Regions from separate parts of the Homo sapiens genome. Here region 2 is linked to region 1. The links come from fine-mapping of genetic effects on gene expression. A gene starts in region 1. The other region holds a variant in brackets. All regions are shown on one strand. Distances are from middle to middle. Region 1 holds the start of MED6 (mediator complex subunit 6). Region 2 overlaps TTC9-DT (TTC9 divergent transcript).

Evidence for each region. PIP is the estimated chance that this variant, and not a neighbour inherited with it, causes the effect.
Region 2: its variant is fine-mapped to the expression of MED6 in whole blood (TOPMed, PIP above 0.99).

The regions. Positions count from the first base shown.
Region 1 is chr14:70,599,564-70,602,484 of GRCh38, reverse strand. It overlaps MED6 (mediator complex subunit 6), which reads left to right and starts at 1,830. Exons shown (of 8, transcript NM_005466.4): 1 at 1,830-1,869. The coding sequence starts at 1,848. RefSeq lists an enhancer at 1,129-2,328.
Region 2 is chr14:70,637,196-70,640,116 of GRCh38, reverse strand. The region is part of intron 1 of TTC9-DT (TTC9 divergent transcript); the gene reads left to right. Among named protein-coding and RNA genes, the nearest start is that of TTC9-DT, 2.6 kb to the left of the region's middle. The variant G/C (reference allele first, on the strand shown) is at 1,606.

The DNA of each region.
Region 1 (2,921 bases):
TGATATGCTTGTGCCCCAGCTCTTCACATGAGTGATTTGCTTTCATCTTCCAGGTCTCATCTCAGGTATCACTTCCTCAGAGAGGCCTGTCCTGACTGTCCTACCCAAAGTGGCTTCCTCCCTATCTTGTCTTCTCTTGTTTTTGTTACCACACTTTTTAATTTATATTTCTTTATTAACTGAAACAATTAATATAAAAGAAATAGAGATGGGATCTCGCTATCTTGACCAGGCTGGTCTCCAGCTCCTGGGCTCAAGCAATCCTCCCATCTTGGCCTCCCAAAGTGCTGGGATTACAGGCGTGAGCCACCTTGCCCTGTCTTCCTCAAGTTATCTTTCTAAAATGGAAGCTTGATCACATTTCTCCCATTGCCTACAAAATAAAGGTTGAGCTTCCAGGTCTTATTTACCATGCATACCATATGTTTTATTATCTACAGATCTGCATTCTGTCACTATTCTTCCTAATCTCCTTCTAGCCTAATCAAAACACAAGGAAACAAAAAACTAGAAAAACAAAACAAAAAGCTTTATGGATCACACTTTTTATTGGACACGATACTCTTCCTTTTTGCAATGTCCTCCCACTAGGCTCCCAACCAGGCCCTCCTGAAAAATTCTCTCTCAAAACTTTACTCTGTGCATGCACATACTTCTGTTGGGACACCTATTTTATACATACCATCTCAGGCAGAAAATTCCCAAACTGAAATGTACAGGCAACGTACTTTTATTCTACGGAGTTAACAAATTTTTAATTCCTTGTCTATGAGGTTGAAAATCCCAATTAAATTTCTGGTCTTCCCCTCTTGCTCCTGGGTTGTGGTTAAATTCTTGGGGAGTCTTCACAGTACCTAAGTTTTGGAGAAGATGTAGGCACCCGCCCTCATCCCTCCTTCAGATTTTGGCATCCTCTTCCTAGTATCTGTGTGTTGTTTGCATATTTCTGTATCGTTTTGCTTTTACAGAGCCACACTGAAGCTTGAGAATCTGAGGCTTTCTGTAGCTTCCCCGTACACAGAATCATTCCCTCTTTGGAGCCTTGCTACCTACTCCAGACTACTTGGAATGCAGACATTTGCTCATTACTCTGGGACCCAGGGGTATTCCCTTTCTCTTAATCTTATTAATATTTCACTTCAGAAGCATTTCCTGTGTTGTGAAATTTTTCTCAGAGGCTTCTTTAATTGGTTTAGATTTTTAATGGATTTAGTCACATAAAAGCCAATGACTCCCAAATTCTTAAGTCCTGTCCCATCCCAATACCTGAGGCAGGGAGAAAAATATAAATGACCATCGTTCCTAAATCTGATAGCTCAGTGGATACACCCGGGGAGCTTTTAAAATTAAGAGACACTCCCAAGCACAACTCTACAGCATCAGAATTTGTTTTCTTGACGATCACAGACGATCAAGGCAGAATTCTTCCATCAGTGGTGGGCGTGGGGCGGGACTCCACTCGGTCTTTCTGTCCTCTAAGTCTTCTAATTTTTTTCCCAGTAATCCGCCCTCCCGTTCTCCTTCTTTGGCCCATCCCTCTTCTAGTCTTTCCCTGCTCCCCTGCACCAATCTTTCTGCGTCCCGTCCCCTCCCATTCCCCTACCCCACCCCACCCCACCCCACCCCACGTTTCCCGCCTCCCGCGCCTCTCCCGCTTTCCGCCCCCTCGCGTCTCCTCCCCTCCCACCCGCACCTCCACCCCCTGCCTCTCTCCTGCCCGCCCCGCCCCCTCTTCCGCTCTACGTCCCTCCTCACCCATGCGCACTCTCTTCAACCCGCTGCTTCCGGCGGCCTAGGCTTACGTTTACTTTGCGCCGGAAAGAGAACCTGTAAACGCTCTCGGAATTATGGCGGCGGTGGATATCCGAGGTATACTGTATTGCTATATTTTGTCTCTTGATTGTCTGTGGACCAGTTTGGGATGTTATAGCTCGCGGTTTCAAGGTTTAGGTTCCTTTGTGTGAAGTCTCAAGCTTTTTTGAGTGGTTTTTGTGGACAACCCAAGGCTGTGATCTAGCGAAACGTTGACGAGTTTTTTTTTTTTTCTGAGTTCTTGGAGCGTCTCTTGGAAGCGTCGGAGAGAAGGGGTTGGAAGAAGCTCTGGGTTTTGAGCTTTCAGAGCTGGAGTTTTGTTCTACACACGTATCTCTGCAACAACATTAGGGCTATTCTATTGGAGTGAAGGAATGGCGTTTAGGCAGAGAAGGGAATGGGGTAATAAGCCAACTTGATTTGATTCATCTCTTGGGACTTGGCATGGTGGCTGCCTAATTCTTTAGACCGCGCCACACGGGTCCCTGAGCATGAATCCCAGATATTTTCTTTTTTTTTGAGTCGATAATACTTTACATCGAACGTCCAGCAATTATTATGGGCAGGGGTCGTATTTTTTTCACAGCTGAACTGCAGAAGTACTCAAATATTGAATCAGTCAGTGAATAAATGTATGGAGATGTCACCCCTTAACTGCTGCTTGATCTTGGGGAGCATGTAGAGTTGTTTTTGTGTATATAGTACTTGATTTTTAAAGGGAGATGTTTGAGATGCCTTTTTTTAATATTAACTGGATTGGGGTCTAACACATTTATTACAAATATTCTCATTTATACTTATCTGGCGATCTGCAGCACTTCTGGATCATGATTTTACATACGTGTCTTTCATTATTTATTTCATCACTTGCTGATGGTTAGAATGCTGTTAGAATGCTTGGGCTATGTCAACATGTTGCCTTGCTACAGAATAAAAAAGAGAAATATTTAGTTTATAAAATGTTTTACTTATAATTCAGATTGTTAGGATCATGGCAAAGACTCTAAAATAAGAGTGTGTTTGGTGTGTTAAAGGAACAGCAAGGAGGTCAGTGTGGCTGGAGGGTAGTGAGAGAGGATGTGGGAAGGAGATGAAGTCAGAAAGGTGTT
Region 2 (2,921 bases), 38 kb before region 1:
AATATACACAATTCATTTACTGTTTGTTGTTGTTGTTGTTGTTTTCTTTTCTTTTTTATTTTTGAGTCAGGGTCTTTCTCTGTCACCCAGGCTGCAGTGCAGTGGCATGATAATTGCTCACTGCAGCCTCAAACTCCTGGGCTCAAGGGATCCTCTCACCTCTTACTTTAGCCTCCTGAGAAGTTGCAACTATAGGTGCACACCACTACCCCTGGTTAATTATTTTTTTTGTAGAGACAGGGTCTTGCAATGTTCCCCAGGCTTGCTTCCTGTGCTTTTTACTTTACATTATATGTAATTAAATATTCTTTTAAAGCCTAATTTTTAATATTCTGTACAATATTCCATTGTAAGTGGCCGGGTGCAGTGGCTCACGCCTGTAATCTCAGCACTTTGGGAGGCGGAGGTGGGTGGATTACCTGAGACTAGAAGTTCAAGACCAGCCTGGCTAACATGGTGAAACCCCATCTGTACTAAAAATACAAAAACCAGCTGGGCATGGTGGTGGCTGCCTGTAATCCCAGCTACTTGGGAGGCTGAGCAGGAGAAACGCTTGAACCCGGGAGGCAGAGGTTGCAGTGAGCCAAGAGCGTGCCATTGCACTCTAGCATGGGCCGCAGCGGGAGACTCTATCTCAAAAAAAAAAAAAAAAAAAAAAATTCCACTGTAAGTGTACCATAGTGTACTTAAGCATTCTTCTATAGTCAGAAAGATTTTGCTATTATAAATAACACTGAGATAAAAATAATAGATATCACTTACATATAGTATTTACATTGTGCCAGGCATTGGGTTAAGCACTTAACATATAATAATCCACTGAATCTTCATAATAACTTAGTGAAATCAGTGCTATTGTTATCCTCATTTTAGACACCAAGTCACAGAGACTTGCCTGAGATTACACTGCTAATGAGTAGTGGAGCTGGGACTTAAACCCAAGAAATTTGGCTCCAGAATCTATGCTCTTAACTATCTTTATACTTAAATTTTTTTCCTAATTTATTTTTTCTTACAAAACATTATTTCAAGTTTTAATAAAGTCTAGAAACACATTGTCAACTTGCTTCTCAGAAAGATTGTACTAACTTGTGCTGCCACCAGCAATATGCTAGTTTCACCACCTCCTTGCCAACGTCAAGGGTGAGCTCTTAAGAAATATTTTCTAATTTGATAAATTAAAAATGTATATAGAATTAAATGAGATAGCTCTAATTATAAAGGTGAACATTTTTCACATATACCGTTGTCATTTATAGAGAACCTAGGGCTTTTAGTTGGACACAATTTTAGCGTGCTAAATTATGTCTTGTATTTCTTTACTTTCCTAAATGCTTTGACATTTTTCATCTCATTTGATCCTCACATTATCCCTGGAGAGGGGAGATGATTCTCTGCTCACACAGTGCGTTTGCAGTGGTATCTTACAAGTGAGACATCGTATAAGTTCAGTGGTTAAAAGATTCTAGACTCAGACAAGTGTTATCTGGAATTCTATCTTGACTATTTCCTGGGCAAGTTATTCAACTTCTGAAAACTTAATTTCCTCATTCATTAAGTGGGACTACTACTTACTTCATAGGGTTGTTGTGAAGCATAAGTGCT[G/C]GACAGATGGTAACTTTAATTATTGCTCTTAAATCCTGTCACTGTTGGATCCCATAAGAATGTTGTGACAGAACTCCAGTTAATTCATAAATATTTGCCAATTGCCGGCTCTTTTTACTTTAAGGTATTGCATCAGGTAGAGCAAAGAGAAGAAATTAGAGGTTGGGCACTCCGAATTTTTGTTGTTACCAGTCCTTAAAATAACTTAGATAGGACAGGCTACAGGAGGCAAATATTGGATAAAGACCCAGGCCTGGAATTTGGCTCCTGTCAGAAATAAGACGTGAATTGGGTCACAGTGGTCACAACCATTTAAAGCTAAGAAATATTGACATGCCAAATTGCTTTTTATTTTCCCACTGTGTGCTGGCTTAATGGTGCAGTATCTCACTCTTAGATTTTGGGTTTGAGGACACGGCTCTGAGAAACATGGAACCCATGCGTTACTAACCTGTGTATGAAGCAGAACTCAACACAAGAGCTTAGTACTAGCTCCGATAAAGGCGAGCATGAACGAGGAAGGGAGGGAATATTAAGAGCGGTAGCATGGAGTGAGAGTAGAATTACTATGCCCATCTGTCCCGCTCCACAGAGTTGTCTGTGTAGGTCTAGAACCGTTCTGTTTGCTTGTTGTTAGTATACTTCTGTCTCTGTTTAAGCCACTCATTGGTAAACGTGTTTTGGCTTCCCAAAAATGGTCTTCTTCCTTCAAATGGAATTAAATAAATGCCAACAAGAATTTCTTAAACGTTCTTCCATTAACCGTTGGCCATATGCAGAGCACTATTTTAGGAAGTGAGAAAAGACCCAAATGACAGAAAATCTGAGCATGAACTTCAGAGTCAGAAACTCAGTGCTTCTCCATGCATGTTTATAGCAGCACAGTTCACAATTGCAAAGATGTGGAAGCAACCTGTGTTCCCATTGACTAATGAGTAGATAAATAAAATGTGGTATGTATATACCATGGAATACTGCTAAGCCATCAAAAGGAACGAAATAACGTCTTTTGCAGCAACTTGGATGGAGCCAGAGGCCATTATTCTAAGTGAAGTAACATAAAAGTGGAAAACCAAAAACCGTATGTTCTCATATATAAGTGAGAGCTAAGCTATGAGTACGCAAAGGCATACAGAGTGGTACTTTAGAGACTCAGAATGGGGAGAGTGGGGAGGGCCTAGGGATAAAAAAAAACAAAAACAAAACTATACATTAGGCACAATGTATACTACTTGGGTGATGGGTGCACTAAAATCTCAGAATTCACCACTATACAATTCGTGTAACAAAAAACCACTTGTACCCCAAAAGCTATT